Linked DNA regions of Homo sapiens: all the other regions are reported to be linked to region 3. The links are microRNA targets in miRTarBase. Many come from high-throughput screens and were not tested one by one. Region 3 holds a microRNA gene; each other region holds the end of a gene's coding sequence. Distances are between the middles of the regions.

The links. The annotated mature microRNA hsa-miR-6757-3p reads AACACUGGCCUUGCUAUCCCCA and lies in region 3 at 3,377-3,398, opposite strand. An mRNA with a match to its seed (bases 2 to 7 or 8) in the 3' UTR can be bound and repressed. Matches are read on the target gene's strand: a 7mer-m8 pairs with bases 2 to 8, a 7mer-A1 pairs with bases 2 to 7 and ends in A, and an 8mer does both.
Region 1: the mRNA of IRF2BPL is a reported target of hsa-miR-6757-3p. Seed matches in the 3' UTR shown: 7mer-m8 at 4,762-4,768.
Region 2: miRTarBase lists PHC1 as a target of hsa-miR-6757-3p. Seed matches in the 3' UTR shown: 8mer at 4,942-4,949 and 7mer-m8 at 3,418-3,424.

Annotation. Positions count from the first base shown.
Region 1 is chr14:77,020,198-77,025,916 of GRCh38, forward strand. It overlaps IRF2BPL (interferon regulatory factor 2 binding protein like), which reads right to left. Exons shown (of 1, transcript NM_024496.4): 1 at 4,346-5,719. The coding sequence ends at 5,205. Among named protein-coding and RNA genes, the nearest start is that of IRF2BPL, 5.7 kb to the right of the region's middle. RefSeq lists an enhancer at 3,349-3,643 and a silencer at 3,850-4,075.
Region 2 is chr12:8,939,158-8,944,876 of GRCh38, reverse strand. It overlaps PHC1 (polyhomeotic homolog 1), which reads right to left. Exons shown (of 15, transcript NM_004426.3): 15 at 3,410-5,572. The coding sequence ends at 5,418. M6PR (mannose-6-phosphate receptor, cation dependent) reads left to right here. Exons shown (of 7, transcript NM_002355.4): 4 at 967-1,076; 5 at 1,342-1,472; 6 at 2,335-2,461; 7 at 2,937-4,516. The coding sequence ends at 3,059. Among named protein-coding and RNA genes, the nearest start is that of M6PR, 7.6 kb to the left of the region's middle.
Region 3 is chr12:53,054,313-53,060,387 of GRCh38, reverse strand. MIR6757 (microRNA 6757) reads right to left here and starts at 3,444; the gene lies at 3,376-3,444. TNS2 (tensin 2) reads right to left here. Exons shown (of 29, transcript NM_170754.4): 7 at 5,947-6,075; 8 at 5,152-5,202; 9 at 4,698-4,820; 10 at 4,543-4,607; 11 at 3,292-3,375; 12 at 2,709-2,821; 13 at 2,555-2,615; 14 at 2,286-2,361; 15 at 1,943-2,072; 16 at 1,751-1,816; 17 at 1,561-1,674; 18 at 130-1,341. TNS2-AS1 (TNS2 antisense RNA 1) reads left to right here and starts at 5,950. Exons shown (of 4, transcript NR_033854.1): 1 at 5,950-6,067.

The DNA of each region.
Region 1 (5,719 bases), not on the chromosome of region 3:
CAAGCAATTCTCCTGCCTTAGCCTCCTCAGTAGCTGGGATTACAGGGACGCGCCACCATGCCTGGCTAATTTTGTATTTTTAGTAGAGACGGGGTTTCTCCATGTTGGTCAGGCTGGTCTCGAACTCCCAACCTCAGGTGATCCGCCCACCTGAGTTTCCCATAGTGCTGGGATTACAGGCGTGAGCCACGGCGCCCGGCCAGACCAGACGTAAGTTCTAACCTCAATTCATGAATGGGCTTTAGATGTGCATAAATGCCTTGAGAAATTGAGTAGTATTGGTTGCATCCCAGAAGGGAACTGAGTAGCAGAGGGGCCATTGTACTATATTCCCCTTTGCATCCTTTGTTTTTTTGTTTGTTTGACGCAGGGTCTTGCTCTGTTGCCTAAGCTGGAGGGCAATGGCACAATCATTGCTCACTGCAACCTCGACCTCCCAGACTCAAGTGATCCTCCCGCCTCAGCCTCTCAAGTATCTGGGACCAGAGGCATGCACCACCTTGCCCAGCTAATTTTTGGTTGTTGTTTGTTTGTTTTGAGAAGGAGTCTAGCTCTGTCACCCAGGCTGGAGTGCAATGGTGTGATCTCGGCTCACTGCAACCTCCACCTCCCAGGTTCAAGCGATTCTCCCTCCTCAACCTCCTGAATAGCTGGGATTACAGACGTGTGCCACCACACCTGGCTGATTTTTTTCTATTTTTAGTAGAGACAAGTTTCACCTTGTTGGCCAGACTGGTCTTGAACTCCTGACCTCAAATGATCTGCCTGCCTGGGCCTCCCAAAGTGCTGGGATTATAGGTGTGGGCCACCACGCCCAGCCTGCCCGGCTAATCTTAAAATTTTTTTTGTAGAGGAAGGGTCTCACTATGTTGCCCAGACCAGTCTCGAACTCCTGGCCTAAAGCAATCCTCCTGCCTCAGCCTCCCAAAGTGCTGAGATTAAAGGCATAAGCCACCACTCCAGGCCTCATTCTTTGAGTTTTGAACCAAAGGAATGTATTACCTTCTCAAAAACAAATATATAAAATGTATATTAAAAAAGAAAAAAATGTATGCAAATCCTTGTGTATGTGGGCACTGGTATATCTTGGGGAGGAGCCATAATTTTTGCTAGATTTTTCCAAGGTGTCTCTGACCCCAGAAAGGTTTAGAGAACATTTCACTAGATGACCTTAAGAGTCATTCCCAGTGCAGTGGTGCTGTCTTGGCTCATTGCAACCTCTGTCTCCCAGGTTCAAGCAATTCTCATGCCTCAGCCTCCCGAGTAGCTGGGACTGCAGGCACACGTCACCACGCCCAGCTAATTTTTGTATTTTGTATTTTTAGTAGAGACGGGGTTTCACCATATTGGCCAGGCTAGTCTCGAACTCTTGACCTCAGGTGACCCGCCTGCCTCAGCCTCCCAAAGCGCCCAGCCCCAATTCCAACTTCCTGACTTGATGAAGTATTACAGAAAACAAAAGTGAGTTTCAGTATTTATTACATCAGCCAGTCTGGGCTGGATGCAAGTGAAAACGCACCTTGAATCTTACATTGAGGACTTGATACGGTGAGCCGCCTTCGATGGTGGACTATGGTGCTGCCTTCAGAGATCAAGGTCAAGAAATTACTCCCATTGGCCTATTCTCTCAAAGCTGTTGAATTGAGTCCTCATTGCCCCACCACTCTGCCCACTTAAACATGTCGTTTGGATTTGCTGCACAAATGATGCACAAAGATAAATATGAATTTTTAAATGTTGGCCACTTTGGCTCTGAGGGGAAAGGGAGTGAGAAGGATAGGAAACGAGGGTCAGAAGAAATGGAGGTAAAATGGAGATGAATGGAGCCTCGGCTCATCCAGAGGCCTGGGCTGAATCTCAGAAACCCACAAGAATCCTTACACGCCAGAGAGGAAAAGTGCTTCCTAGGCGTCCAATGTGGAAAGCTTCAGGGAAAGGAGAATCCAGCTGAGGGATCAGAGAAAGGCTGGTTAAGGCAACCAAACTAGCAGCTGAATGGGTCCCAGGAAAGGAAAAGTTCACATGGTTTAAAAAAAAAAAAAAGCCTCCATTTAACAAGTGGTCCCCGGCTATGATAAACTTTAATTAACTGCACTATCATAATTCACTTCTAGCCTGGGTTCCACCCCAACCTGCTCTCTCCCTCCCACTCCCTCCCTCCTCTCCCCAACGTCTCTAGTCAGGTTTCCTTAGTGAAACCAAACTGGCCTCCATGGCTGGATGCCTCATTATTACAGCTGCTGCTTCTACTGTTCATAATAGCACCCAGCAACAAGAAGGAAAGAAACGATGCTGTTCTCAGTGCTTAAAGACAGGCCCTCCTTTCCTACCTATGTGCACTAGTAATCAAGGGTCTTACAATCCTAAAAGTTCCTGAGCATAATACCATAGTGATGAAGAGACAGTTGCAGGCCGGCAGGAGCAGCTGTGCACAGAAACCGGTAACAGGGACAACTCCCAGCTGGAGCCACCAGACACAACTCATAAGGTCCACGCCCAGACAGGTGATCCACATGTCTAAATTCACATGCACTGTGCAATGCCGGAGGAGGGGTGGCTGCACCCACCGCTCCTTCCTTCAATGATAGTTAAATTATACCCGTGACACTGTATTCTCAGGCTGTTGAGCTTTACCAATTTTAAGAGTATGTGCCTTGGGAGCGGGAGTTGGGAGCATCTTAGAGGATCTTCCAGGCAAAACATGCTTGGTTTTTATTAATGAACTTACACAAAAAGCCAACCCAGACCTTTAAGTGCAATGTGTGATTGGTAGCCAGGCGAGGATGGGTTTTGGAATTAACTCTTCCTACAGTCTGCTATGCATTATCACCCCCAAGTTAATTACCCCTGCGGATGAAAATAGGTTTCATGACTCATAAGCACCAATACAACACTTGGCAGCAGATGAAAATGCAAGGACACATTTGCAGGAAGCTGACATGAATATCTATTTATATGTGGGGAGATTCTTAGAGGTGAGGCAGGCACCTCCCATGTACCAGGATTAAGAGGCTGCAGCAGATCCATCAATATTGCCACTTATCCACACCCACACACACACACGCGAGTGCGCGTGCACACAGAGTCCTGGTTTCCACCACTTCAGTGATGGCAGTGGCAAAGCAGGAAAAGAAACTAAAAGGGTGTTATTAACAAGTTCCGACACCAGCCCGGCCTCCACACCAGAGTTCTGGGCGAACCAGTGATTTGTTTCTCCCCAAACGTGCCTGTACCCATCCCCACCTCCCAGTCTTCCCACTCCTTTGATGGGAGTGGAGTGGGGGATCCAAGTTTCTTAATAGTCCTTCAGCCTTGGAGGGGACCAACAGGGCCCAGCTCGCCCCGCCCAGGAATGAGATGTGGCCAGGAATCAATTTGACTGGATTGCCGGGTTTTGTTTTGCTTCCTCCCTCCTGTTTTCTGCTCTTCTATTTGCCTCCCAGGAAAGTACAAGGTTCAGATCAGGTTTGTTTGCCTTCCCCTACCACTGGGAGGACTCCAGGCTGCTCTCAGCCCACGAGCAGGGGCTCTGCTCTAAAGGGCAGTAGTCTTCTCTCCGCTTCCCCGCCTCTCTGCACCTCACAAACGCCGCCAAAAGCTGATTAGATGAATAATTGCATTGCTTCACCAGCAGGAATGGATTTTTATTTGATGTTGGAAGTAAACCTTTGCTTCAGGAACTAAGTTTGGGGTTTCCCCCCCTCTTCCTCATCCTCAGAAACCCTCTCTAATCAACTAAGTCTTTAGAATTATTTCTGCCTTTAAAAATAATTATTTAAAATACAAGAAAGAAAACTTGTAATGAATGAGGTGAAAACTGGTTTTCCAAGGAACCAGCCTGAAGCTACTGCGGACTCTCCAAGGCTGAGTGTATGCATTTGCTCCCAGCTCTGTGGCAGTTTTGTTTTAAATATGCAGACTGATGTCTGTCATATCTAAGAAGCAAAGCATCCTAGCTTTTCTCCTAGACTTTTTCGCCCACTTGTCAAGTCACCAGCTGCACTGGGTGTCAGCCTATGTTCACCGCCACAGGGCGAGGCACCAGAAAGCATTCTTGACAATGCCATTTGCAGCTGGGCCCGCATCCGGGGGAAAATAGAGATGCTGAAGAGTAAACCGAAATCGCTTAGTCAGCAACTGTCGCCTCCCCAAGAGGTGAATTTAAATAGCCTGGTACCGAGGGGGAGGGGCAGCAAGGCAGCACAGGGCCTTTCCCACAGGCCAGCTCCCAGGGCTTTCAAAAGCACTAGGATTTTCGTTCTATACTGGAGGTAGGGAGGGTGTCGCCTACGTCGGAGTTGCATGGCCTTAGCCCTAGAAAGACAAAATTGCTGACTCAGCGCAGTTAATATCAATTGAATTTATTACAAGTTACTAAGCTCCAAGGCACATTACAGTGTTCTGTTAACTACAGAAATGTATAAAGGACAAACAGAGCAGATTCTCCATGTCTAGCATTTCGCTCTACTGTTCAAAAGCATCCGTGCATCAATAAAGCAAAAACAAAACAACACGTGTAGATCCAACACATTCAGGTCAGTAGAAACAAACCAAAACATTTTCCCCTCACAAACTTGCAACAAAATACACCCCATCCCCCCCGACACCCCCTTACCATTTTGCAAACAAAACAGAAAAACAAAACAAAACAACAAAATAAAGTGAAGACTTCAACACTTGGGGCAGTTTAGAAGGAAGCTTTCACCATTTTATAGCATTTTTTTTTTTTTTTTTTTTTTTTTTTTTTTTTTTTAGGCAGCAACACTGGCCTTGGCAAAAAAAAAAAAAAAAAAAAAAAAGTCTTTTTCTTTTGTGTGTGTTTTTCCTTTCAGAGAGTGCATAACATTTACAAAAATACACACCAGCAGCAGTCGTTGCTAAGGGCTATTAATTCTGTACCTAGGCAAACATTCTGCCACCAAATAAATGCTAACGATATGATGCAAATGACCCAACCAATACTATACTGCTTAACACAAACCAGCTTATCCTTCAAATGAAGAAGTTACATACCTTTGTTTCAAAATATAGAAACATACGACGAAAATAATGTCTATACATAAGACTAACTTTTTGCAGTTTCGTTATATTCACAATTCTACACCTTGGGGGTGAGGGGAGGGAGGGTCGAGTTGGGTTGGGGGAGGGGCCCTCAGGATTGGAGAGGAGCTGGTCTAGGGCAAAGGAGGTGGCTGCCCAGTGGTTCAAGGGTCTCTCTCCTTTTTCACTTTAACATCCCCAGCTAAGATAGTCGCGATTTCGCCCTGCATGAAGGCCCAAGGTACATTCGACCCGACTAGGGGGCATTTCTCTCCGCTGGGGCAATACACCTCGCCGGTGGCCCCCTGGGCCTTGATACTCTCTCTAGAGCAAGGGAAGCAAAATTTGTGGCTGGGGACGGAAGGGCACTGAACGAAATGCGTATCCTCCAAACGTTCGTGGCAAATGGTGCAGCAGAGGGGTCCGCTGTTGGCCATGGGGGAATCCGGAATGTTTTGGGGGTGCACTTGGTCCATGCCCGGGTGGGCGCTAGGCGGCGGGGGCGCCACCTGTAAATTCAGGTCCCCGTTACGTGATGCCAAGCGGCGCTGCCCCGGCACGGAGGCCGGCGAGACTGGGCTGCTGCTGTTTCGCCGCGCCGACGCAGTGGTAGAGTGCACGGAACTGCCATCCTTGGGCGAGTGCGCTGTGCCCAGAGTATCTGCCACCGACATGAGAG
Region 2 (5,719 bases), 44 Mb from region 3:
CTCTAGCCAGAATTCTGTAGCCTAGAGTCCTTTTATTCACCCAAATACTTTTAATGAGTTTCACACTAGACTTACAAATACCAACCACCACCACCACTTTTCATCAAATTAATCAAAGTTTACCAGTTAAATTTTAAGAGCTCAAACTTTTTTTTGCAAACTACTCAGTCTGCAAAACTTTACCCACTGATTTTTGTGCTATGGTGGTGATATTTCTTAAAAGTCATATTGCTGGAGAGGACCATGTAAGCACCTATGGTCCAATTCCCTCCCATACAGATAAATAAGTTATACAAGGTAGCTATTTACTCCTGGTAAATAATACAATAAAAAAGTAACAAAAGGGTTTGGGGCTGGGGATCATGTGACCAGGTTCTCCTCCTGTTTCCTAATCCTGTGACTGGAAAGTCGTATCACCTTTTGACCTTGTTTTCTCATATGCAAAACTAGGAGCAGAATCTTTACCTTATTCACCTCACAATTACTGAATCAAATGATATTTTGCAAAAGAACTGAACACAGTAAATACTAAAGAAGAGATATGCATTCCAATCTTAGATATCCACTCTGAATTTATCTGGGGCTAAGTTGAAATCTTAGATGGGCTTACCCCTGCTGCTCAGCAATTGTATGGAACCTCTTTTTTTGCTTTTAGAAGGTATTCAGAAAATGAATCAGTGTTAAGGTATGGATCATAATTGGTTTTGCATTGTCAGTTGCCTACCTTTAATGTTAAAAATTAAGATTATTCTTAAATGAATATCTGATTCTTGTCTTAAGGGAACACAAGTCTTTGTAAGCAAACAAGTTTAGCTTGGCATTTCTGGTATACCAAGTTCGTACTGATGAGGGTTGTTTAGTTATAACCAATTGCAATGAATTACGCAATTCCACTCTGCCATACCACCCAGATCTGCCTCTGCTTTTCCCCCACCCCATAGCTCCATTTTCCTTGTCCCTCCTCAGGTAATTGGATCATGCTGATCTATAAAGGGGGTGATGAATATGACAACCACTGTGGCAAGGAGCAGCGTCGTGCAGTGGTGATGATCTCCTGCAATCGACACACCCTAGCGGTGAGGCACCCTGTGTTGTATAAGCCGAGGGAGGAGACTGAAAGGACTGACCTGAGGTTGGGGAGAATATCCAGAGGGGACACGATACGTTGGGATGGACATTAGAAAACTAGGAGCTCAGTTTCTCTCTGTGTCAGACACGCATCTTCCATGGAAAATAGGCTGCTGAACCAGGAAGGAGCAGATGTTTTTTGGGTTTTTTATTTTGTTGGACAGGAGTCAAAACACTTAACCACCTGAATGTGTTATGCCATCTCATCATCAGGACAATTTTAACCCTGTGTCTGAGGAGCGTGGCAAAGTCCAAGATTGTTTCTACCTCTTTGAGATGGATAGCAGCCTGGCCTGTTCACCAGAGATCTCCCACCTCAGTGTGGGTTCCATCTTACTTGTCACGTGAGTATGCCTTCCTTTATCAGAACAGACCTTCCTTCCTTTTGTTTTTAAGGTCAGTAACTATATGGTGGTACATAAGCACAAATTGTATGTGTACATTATGCTGTAATTGATGGGGATAACTTTTTAAATCCTCTGGCTATAAAATAATTCTGCCAGGACACAGGGCTCACGCCTGTAATCCCAGCACTTTGGGAAGCCAAGGCAGATGGATCACCTAAGGTCAGGAGTTTGAGACCAACCTGACCAACATGATGAAACTCCGTCTCTACTAAAAATACAAAATTAGCCAGCACAGTGGCACATGCCTGTAATCCCAGCTACTTGGGAGGCTGAGGCAGTAGAATCACTTGAACCTGGGAGGTGGAGGTTGCAGTGAGCTGAGGTCGCACCACTGCACTCCAGCCTGGGCAACAAGGGCAAAACTCCGTCTAAAAAAAAAAAAAAAAAAAATTCTGACTGCAAGTTTTTGAAAAATGAGATTTAATGTTTAGTTGCCGGTATAGATTTGCATTTGGAGGTGCTTTTTTCCCCTACTGCAGGACTAGGCAATTTTTATATTATTTCATTAGATTATGAGAACTTCTAGAGAAATGGAATCATATACTTAATGGTGATTATTCTTGGCCATAGAATCACACGCTGTCACATTTTGTCTGGGCCTTTGCTTCTCTTGGACTGACAGCACTCTAACTGGTTTTCTAAGAGTTACCAGCCCCCTTTTTCATTTAGTATCACTACTCATTTTTCCTTTTCAGGGAATGTATCTTAGGAAACAGCTGACAATAAATGCAGAGGTTATCCTATCTGAGTTTTTACTATTTCCCAGTTCTTAAGTATAGATGTCTTTCTCTCTCTACAGGTTTGCATCACTGGTTGCTGTTTATGTTGTTGGGGGGTTCCTATACCAGCGACTGGTAGTGGGAGCCAAAGGAATGGAGCAGTTTCCCCACTTAGCCTTCTGGCAGGATCTTGGCAACCTGGTAGCAGTAAGTAACAGGGCAGCTGGTTGAATTTGTAGCCTGCAAACAAGGTTGGGTGACCAACCATCCTCGTTTGTTCACACTGAGGGGGTTCCTGGGACACAGGACATTGAGTGCTAAAACCACAAAAGTCCCAGCAAACAAGACAGTTGCCCTAGTACAGAGTAGTAAGTGGCACAGCATCCATTTCTGGCCTTGGTAAGACATTGCTGAAAGAGCAACACTGTTGACCAGATGGGCTCTTCTAAATCTGATTTAGCTTTTAAGAGGGCCTGGGTGGGAAGAAGGTGAGGCCTAATAAGAAGAAACTTTTTCTCCTGTTGCCCCAAATTGAATTTAGGCTGATTGTCAGATCTTTTAGGTTTTCTCATTATCCCTATAGAAAACCAATTCTTGCCACATTCCTAGACCATAAGTACACTTTCTCATATCCTAAAGTTAGATGCTGCGAATTATTTCCTTCTTTTTTTTCCCCCTACAGGATGGCTGTGACTTTGTCTGCCGTTCTAAACCTCGAAATGTGCCTGCAGCATATCGTGGTGTGGGGGATGACCAGCTGGGGGAGGAGTCAGAAGAAAGGGATGACCATTTATTACCAATGTAGATTGCACTTTATATGTCCAGCCTCTTCCTCAGTCCCCCAAACCAAAGCTACACAGCCAGATTTCTCAAGCAGTCTCAACTCCAGTCCCTCATCTCACCCTTACTATTGCTCTTGCTTTCCAGTTTGCTTTTGATTTGCATCTTCTCACTAGTAAAACTGCCTTCCCTTTGTTCCTTATTTTCTGTTTTTTCTCTAGAGAGGTACAGTTGTAAGTCAGAGTTAATATAATAGGGCCTGTGAAAACAGAGGCTTTTGCATTGTCTCTTGACATCAGAAGTTACAATAGGCATATGGGCAAAATGGTGTAGCAGGCTCACTGGCCGTTTGTTTTTTAAACACATTTTCACAAGTTTTTGAGACACTGGATTTCTTTAATTAAAAAAAAAATGCCAAGAAACATTATTTATACAGGGTTGATTGCTTTCATGTTGTTATTCTGTACCCTATAGTAGCCTCCATGAGAATCTGGTATTTCTTGCTGCTTGGAACTACTTTGCAGTGATTACTTGGTTGCAGTCCAAGTACTCTCGTTTAGTCTGAGCCTGGAGATGTTCTAGACTTGCTTCTCCCACCTCTGAGATTAGGACAGGAAAAATGTGAAATTTCCCAATTACAGGATTATACGGTACCATCACATCATTTGTGGAAATTGGGGTGACTGTATAGCTGGGATTGGGCTAAGGACTGTGGTCTTATCTGTCCACATACAGCCAAAATGCCTATCCAGAAATCCAGTTCGTTGGAAAGGAAAATTGGTACTCCTGTGCCACAGGGGTTCCAGAAAAGGGAAGTCACTTTACCTTGCGGTGGTGGGATCCTGATGTCTTTCATCCATTTGTAGTAAAAGCTGGTAAAGCTTTTCTTACTCCTGGTTCCCTACCAGTATTTCTAAACATGTCGCACTTTCTCCACAGGCATGTGGTTTTGACCTTTTTTTCAATCTTCTAGAAAGGGAACGGAAGCAGAAGTGGGACATCGAGGGCTCTGCTGTCCTCTGCGCTGGGTGTGGAATGCTGCTGCACCTGTCCCTTCTGCTGGCTCAGGGAAGTGTCTTCTTGCCCACATTTCTGTGGGGAAAGGTTTTTAATCCTCTGATGCTTCCATCTTCCTGTTTAGGCCATGTGCCCAGAAACCTGGACTGATCTTTCTTTAATAGTGAACCCCTGGGCCACTGAAGAGTAACATGGCTCCACTGGACACAAAAGAGGGATGGAATCAACAGGCAGGGGGCCTTTTATAAGCCTTAGGAAAAGAAAATGAAACTATTTCATCTTTGGACTTTTCAATACTATTGGAGTGATTTTTTTCTTTCTAAACAGGGAAAATAATGTTACAAAAGCATCTTTTTTGTTATTTGTTTGCATCCCTCCCCCACACCCTGGTGTTTTAAAATGAAGAAAAAAAACCATCACCTTTTGTACAAAAACTCTTAATGATTAAAAAACAAACAAAACATATTGGCCTTGTCATTTGTGTGAAAGTGGGCAAAGACTGGAATAGAGTAAGACAACTGAAACCAATTTTCATCCTTTTACTGAGGAAAAAAATATTTAATATTTTTGTTATATAAGGAATAGTGCCTAAGGCAGGTACTTATACTCCTGACCTCAGCCCCACACACTCTGGTTTTATAAAGCTATAGGACAGAGCAGAGATGGAACTGAAAAACAGGGTAGAAAATAACATAAATTGGAGGGGAACAGTGGGATGCAGAAAGAATGACAACAGCCACATGTGCCCCAGTCAAATACTTTTAGTCCCTGCAGCAGAAGATGCCAACCAAGTCTCTATACTGGCTGGGGATCCTGCCATGGATGCAGGAGAAAAAATTCAATCACAAGGGAGTAAGTGACAACAAAAAGAAAAAACTCTGAGCCACAGCTACACTGGGAGGGGGGAGGACCAGATTTTGCTACTTCTGTCACACAAGCTAGAAAAACCCTACCTCTCCCATTGGGCAGGCAACCTGACATTCCACCCAGTTCCTTGCCTTACCATACTATGTATTCCTCCTCTTGGAGAATTAAGACCTGGGCTAAATGCTCCACTCCAGGATAAGGCTGAGCAGTCCTAGTTCTCTAGACTGCCTCTTTTATAAAGATTGGATTAAGGTACGTGAAATGGTGAGAACTGTAAAGATTTTAAAAAATAAAGTAGAACCCAGAGAAAATGTCAAAGCTGCCGCCATGTAGCACCAGCAACCAATTCTTGCACTTCTCTTCCCTGTCTCAGTAATCCCCTACAGAAGGTTACATGATTGGAACAACTCTTTCTTCCCTGCAAAGTCTGCTGGTACCAGGTTATAACCTGGACAGTGGAGAGTGTCTGCCTTAGGCTGGTTTGTGCAAGAGGGCCACCTTAGGTCTCCTTGAGGACATTTATCTTGGCGCAGATCTTGAGGGCAGGGCCCAGCTTGATGTTCATGGCACTCATAAGATGTTCTTCTTTAAGTAATAAAAGGGCCTGTCCATCAATCTCCTGTGAGCGAAATTCCTCTGCAATCTCTTGGCAGCCTAGAAGAAATGGTGAGAACATGTAGGTAATGCCAGATGATAGGAGAAGGGAAGCTAAATGAAACTGAGGTCTAGCAATGATTAATTCCAAAGTACCTGTCCTAAATTCAGTAATATGAAGTCAGATGGCAAGCTTTAAAAGCAAAA
Region 3 (6,075 bases):
GGTGGGCTGTGAGCAGGATGGGGCTCTTCTGTCTGGCTTAGCTGTTTCTCACCCTGTTCCCCCTTGACTTCCCCACCATCTTCCAGAACCTCCTCTGCCCTGGGCACTCCGCACTCTGGTGCCCCTCACCTGCAGATGCCAAAGGTCCTGCTGAGGCCAGGTGCCCAGGCAATGGGTACCTGTCCCCTCCCTCCTCCGTAGGGATCTCGTAGCTCAGCTTCCTAGATTGTGGATAGGGCGGGCTGCCCGGGGAAATGGAGCCAGCCCGTGGGGAGTGGGCACCAGGGCTGGGATACCCTCTGCCCTCTCCTGGAGAGCCACAGCTATGAGGCACACGGCCATATGCTGGGCAGTAACTGGGAACTGCTCCTCCATAGCTGTATGTCACCAGGGCAGGGTACCCTGGATGCCCATACCTGCCTTCGGGGCACATGGTGTAGGAGCAGCCCTCGTGCCCTTCCTCGCCTGCCTTGGGTGGCTTCAGGCAGCTGTAGTCAGGCATCGGGGCATGGTGATGCCCACAGGCAGGCAAGAGCAGAGGCAGCGGGTGCCCAGGCCGCACTGGGTGCAGGAGAGGCTTGCCAGCCTCACTTGCCCACCCTTCTCCAGCCTCCCTCTCCAGCCGCAGTCCATACAAGGCTGCTGTAGGCAGCGCCAGCTTCTCCTCGCAGGCTGGGCATGGGTATAGGGCAGGCAGCCCAGGGTCCTCCAGGATGACCACCTCCCGGTAGCCTGGGGCGCGGTAGCCAAAGTCCCCAGTGGCTGGTTTCCCCATCTCAGGTGGGTAGGGGTATAGCCCCTCTGACAGCGATCGGCAGAGGCGCCTCTTCTCCATCGAGGCCTCGGCGTAGCCCTGGGGGGATCCCTCATAGCCCCCGTAGGCCAGTCGCCTCCTCTCCAGGGTTCCCTCTGGCCGGTAGTAGCCCCCATTGGGAACCCCGCAGGGCTCCCGGTAGCCCTGGCGGCAGGAGCAGTGGCGGCTGAGGCCAGGCCTATGGCCTGGATACACTCCGAGGTGGGGGCCTCCGCCCACAGTGGGCTGCTCTTCGTCATCTAGGATGGCCGTCTCGCGCCCAGCTCCCCGGCCCCCACTGGCCACTCCGCAGCCTCCTAGGAGGCGATCCAGCTCCTGCCGTTCAGCAGCTGTAGGGGGCGGCCGGCCAGGGGACTCAGCAGCCGGCTCTGTGGTCAGCGTGGAGGAATGGCCTGAGTCGCTGCTGACAGAGAGCATGGGGGGTGGTGGAGGCTCTGGAGAGGGTGCCGGGGGGGTCTGCCGGGGAGGCCGCTGCACCTGGGCATAAGGACTGCCATCCAGGGGACCCCGGGTGTGGGTCAAGGAGCCTGAGTGGGGAAGAGGATCAGGGAGGGAGGGCAAGCGGGGAACAGGGAGGGAGAGAGAAAATTCATGAGAGGGGATGGCACTGGAGACAGCTGTCGGGCCGGGGGTGTCTCTCGGGAGTGGGCTCTGCCTGGGGAGGAGGGAGTGTGCTTCTCCCTGGCACCACCCCCCAGGGTCCCGCCACAACCCTGTACCTCCCACCCTGCAGGCTGCCTGCGCACCATCCACACTGTCCTCGTGGTGCTGGTTGAAGTTCTCATAGGAGTCCCAGCGCACGGCTGGCTCAGTGGTGTTGTAGTCGACAGAGACCGAGGGGTCGTTCCGTGGAGTGCTGCCTGTGGAAGGCCACTCGGGTATTGGGGAGCAGGGGAGAGGCGGCCCTCAGTCCCCAGCCCATGTCCCTGCTCTTACCTTTGATCTTCTCGGGGCTGGAGGAGAAGACAAACTCCACGGAGGCTTGGAAGGGGAACCTCTCATCTATGGGGAGTGGACAGTGAAGAACCAGGCCCCTGGCCCATACCACACTCTCCTGCCTGCCTGCCACCTGCCTGCCACCTGCCTGCCACCTGGACTCCAGCCCCAGGCCACTTGTCTCAGACTCACCAGTCCAGGCCTCGTCAAGCTGGTCCTTGGGGAAAGTGAGCTGTGGTCCGTGGATGGTGCAGGTGTGGAACTGGACTCGGAACACGAGGGTCCGGTCTGTGCCCCGGCCACCCTTGTGATAACATGTTACCTGGGAGAAAGGCAGGAGGCTGCGGATCAGGCCTCATGTCCTCTTCTGCGCTTCCACCCTGGGGACTGCCTGGTCACAGCTTCTGCCCTGCCTCGATCTCAAGGTGATCTCCCTACTCGCTCTCCAATCTGTCTCAAATTGGTGACTGTGCCGTTACACCACCAACCCCTGCCCCATCTCCAGGATTCTTCTTGTTGACAGGACCCCCCTCACCATGACATCGCCTTTGAGGAGGAGGGCTGGCTCCAGGCTGATGCAAAGCTGCTGGGGACCAGGGCCTGCAATGTGACTGTGGGGAGAGAGGAGAAGGCAGAGATGAACCAGAAGCTCCTGCGTGCAGAGGCAGCTATGCAGTCAGGGGGAGCCAGGAGACCAGAGTCTGAGCCCTGCCCAGGTGTCTAGGGAGGCTGGAGAAGCAGGAATGCAGGAGCAAGAGGGGCCCTGGTCATGAAGTGTCAGGGGCCTGGGAATAGAGCACTCACTAGACTCCAGATGTGTAGACAAGCTGCATGGACTGGTAGATTTTAAGGAAGGGCTGGAAGCCTGGAGGGGCAGAGGAGAAGGCACAGGAGGGGTGCTGAGTGGAGAGGGCCTGAAGGTGGTTCTCCCTAGGGAGCACATCTCAGGCAGACTCACCTGTGCCAGGTTCAAAGGCTGGCAGCATGGGGATGAGCACATAGTGCAGGAAGAGAGGGCTGCTGTTCATTCTGATGGAGCCAGATAGCAGCCCACTGAAGTAGCTGATATATCTGGTGGAGGGCGTGTCAAGGAGAACATAAGCCTTTTCCTCTGGAGGTCACCTTGTATCATTTCAACCATCCACCCTTAGAAGGCTCGCTCTTCTGCTCAACACTTCCTTCCCATCTTCCGGGTCACCAGAAAGTTCTTCCTTGCATCTAACCTCAATCCCTCCTGCTCCCCTCTGCCTCAAAGCTCTTTCCCCAGAGCTCTGCTTCACTTTATAGTGGCAGGCCCTGACTGTCCTTCAGGTTCTCTTTATGACTGATCTCCTCGTCTATTTATTCCCAGGTCTACTGCCTTCCACCCTACTAGCATGAAAGCTCCATGAGAGCAGGGGCTTTGTCCACTTTGAATTCTCAGCACCTGGCACGGCGCTTGGCACACTCAGTGAAAGTGTGCTGCATGAATAAGAGAGTCTTGGCCTTGGTAGCCATGAAGGGAGCTGCTCCTCTGGCCCATCCCCACCCAGGCTGCTCACCGACGCTGGGAGGGCTGCAGTTCTGTGGCCACCTTGTCCTCGCAGAATTTCCGCATGGTAAGAGTGGCCAGTGCCTGGTCCGCCCTGGGGATAGCAAGGCCAGTGTTGGGGATTAGGGATTAATCTTCATCCTGGCCTCCCATCCCTAAGCCCCAGGGGATGGAGGAGAAATATGATTCTCTAAGTCTAGAAGAAGCCCAGAGTAGTGGTAATGAGAATGAGAAGCACCATGTACAGTCACTTTACTAGTTGTTGGGCCTCAGGCAATTGTTCCCTGAACTTTAGTTTTTTCATCTGTAAAACAGGGCAACAAAACCATCTTATGGGTTGAATTATATCCCCCCAAAAGACATGTACCTCAGAATGTGACCTTATTTGGAAATAGGGCCGTTGCAGACATAATTAGTTAAGATGAGACCATACTGAAGGAGGGTGGACCCTGAATCCAATATGATTGGTGTCCTTATAAGAAGAGAGGAAGAGACACAGACAGAGACACACAGGGAGAACACCATGTGATGACAGAGGCAGCGATTACAGTGATGTGTCTGCAAACCAAGGAATGCCAAGGCTTGCCGCCCACCACTGGAAGCTAGAAAGAGACAAGGAAGGATTCCATCCCGAGTCTCAGATGGAGCAAGGGCCTGCTGACAGCTTGGTTTGGGGCTTCTGGCCTCCAGAACTGTGAGAGAGTACATTTCCACTGTTTTTTGTTTTGTTTTGTTTTTGTTTTTTTTGAGACGGAGTCTGACTCTGTCACCCAGGCTGGAGTACAGTGGCACCGTGTGGGCTCACTGCAACCTCCGTCTCCTGGGTTCAAGCAATTCTCCTGCCTCAGCCTCCTGAGTAGCTGGGATTACAGGCGCCCACCACCACGCCCGGCTAATTTTTATATTTTTATATTTTTGGTAGAGATGGGGTTTCACCTGGCCAGGCTAGTTTCAAACTCCTGACCTCAGGTGACCTGCCCACCTCAGCCTCCCAAAGTGCTGGTATTACAGGCGTGAGCCAACGCACCCGGCCCATTTCCACTGTTTTACACCACCCTGTTTGTGGCTGCCCCAGGAAACTCTACAGACCATCTGCTGCAGACTATGTTGCAGTACTAGTGATAAAAGGGAGGTGGAAGTGCTAAGCTGACAGCAAAGGACTCTCAACGAAGAGGTGGGCTCCAGGGGAGATGGGTTCCTAAGGGGCCAGCTGGAGAAAGGGCCACTGGGGAAGCAGCTACTCAGGCGCTGGGAGCCTCACCCTGCAGAGATCTTGCTGTAGTGCATGTAGGCAGAAACGATGACCCCAAGCTTGCCCTTGTTTCCCTGACAGACAGAGAGACAGGGATGAGGGTCTGGGAGCTCCAGGCTGACCTGGAACCTCCAGGCACCAGGGAACCCGAGGTCCTGGCCCACCTTGCAGTATAGTACGACCACGTGCTGTGGGTCAGCACTGAGCCATGTCTCCATGGCTTTGCAGATGGAGCACAGCTTGTCCAGGGGTGGAGCATGCAGCTCAGGCCAGCCGAAGTCTTGAACCTGGGGAGAATGCAGGGGTGCAACTGGGGCCGGGGGCCACCAACAGAGAGAGATGGGCAGGGTGGAAAGGGGACAGGGCATAGGGGTCCGGGGGCAAGGCTGGGGGTCTGCTGGTTGTCCATGATAGCCTCGGCACTTTCCTTATCCATACAATGGGCTGATACCTGCTGCATCACGTTTTGGGGTGTCTCCAGTAATATATCATGGGAGAGTGGGAAAGTGCTTAAGAGTGAAGTAGATGCCAATTGCTACTATTAATAACGAGGAAGCTGGGGGCTTCTGGGGTTGGGGTGGCTTGGTTTAATGGTTGGGCAGGCCATTTCCTTCATACCTTGGGGTTTAAGCGGGTCAGGTCATGCCTTTTCTCTGAAAGGTTGAAGAGCTGAAATAAAGGGGGAGGGCTTTAGACAGAAATGATCTCCGGCAATGAGGCACGAGGTGGAGGTGGATCCTAAGTAAGAATCTTCCTCTAAAATAAGGTGCAGGCCGGTCGCAGTAACTCACGCCTATAACCCCAGCACTTTGGGAGACCAAGGCGGGCGGGTCACCTGAGGTCAGGAGTTCGAGACCAGCCTGGCCAACATGGTGAAACCTCATCTCTACTAAAATTACAACAATTTGCCGGGTGTGGATCGCTTGAGCCCTGGAGTCTTGAGACCAGCCTGGCCAACATGGCGAAACCCCGTCTCTACAAAAAATACAAAAAAAAAAAAAAAAAAAAAAAAAAATTGGCTGGGCGTGAGTGACGCACGCCTGTAATCCTAGCTACTGAGGCTGAGGTGGGAGAATCGCTTGAGCCCGGGTGGAGGAGGTTGCAGTGAGGTGAGATCGTGCCACTGCACTCCAGCCTGGGCAACAAAGTGAGACCCCGTCTCAAAAAAAAGGTAAATAAATAAAGAAAATAAAAAGGTAGCTAAGGCCCGGCCTAGCCAGTCACAGCCAAGTCGCCAGCGTTCCAGGATTCTCCGCTCCGCTCCAGGCCGCGCTCCGGGCCCCGCCCCCACCCCACCACTCTGGTCCCGCCCCCTGGCGGCCTCGCCTCCGCTGGTGACGTCAGTGATTAGCCTCGCCCATCTGGACCCTACATCCCTCTCATTGGCGGACTCCTGATGGCCCCGCCCCTCACCAGGTACTTGTCCCGGTGCTTGGATTGCAGCACATGGGCCAGCTCGCGCAGGTGGCCCCGGTGCCGCTGTTCATCGGGCCGCGCGGGGAAGGCGGCGGCCAAGATGCGCTCCGTCACGTAGGTGAGGTC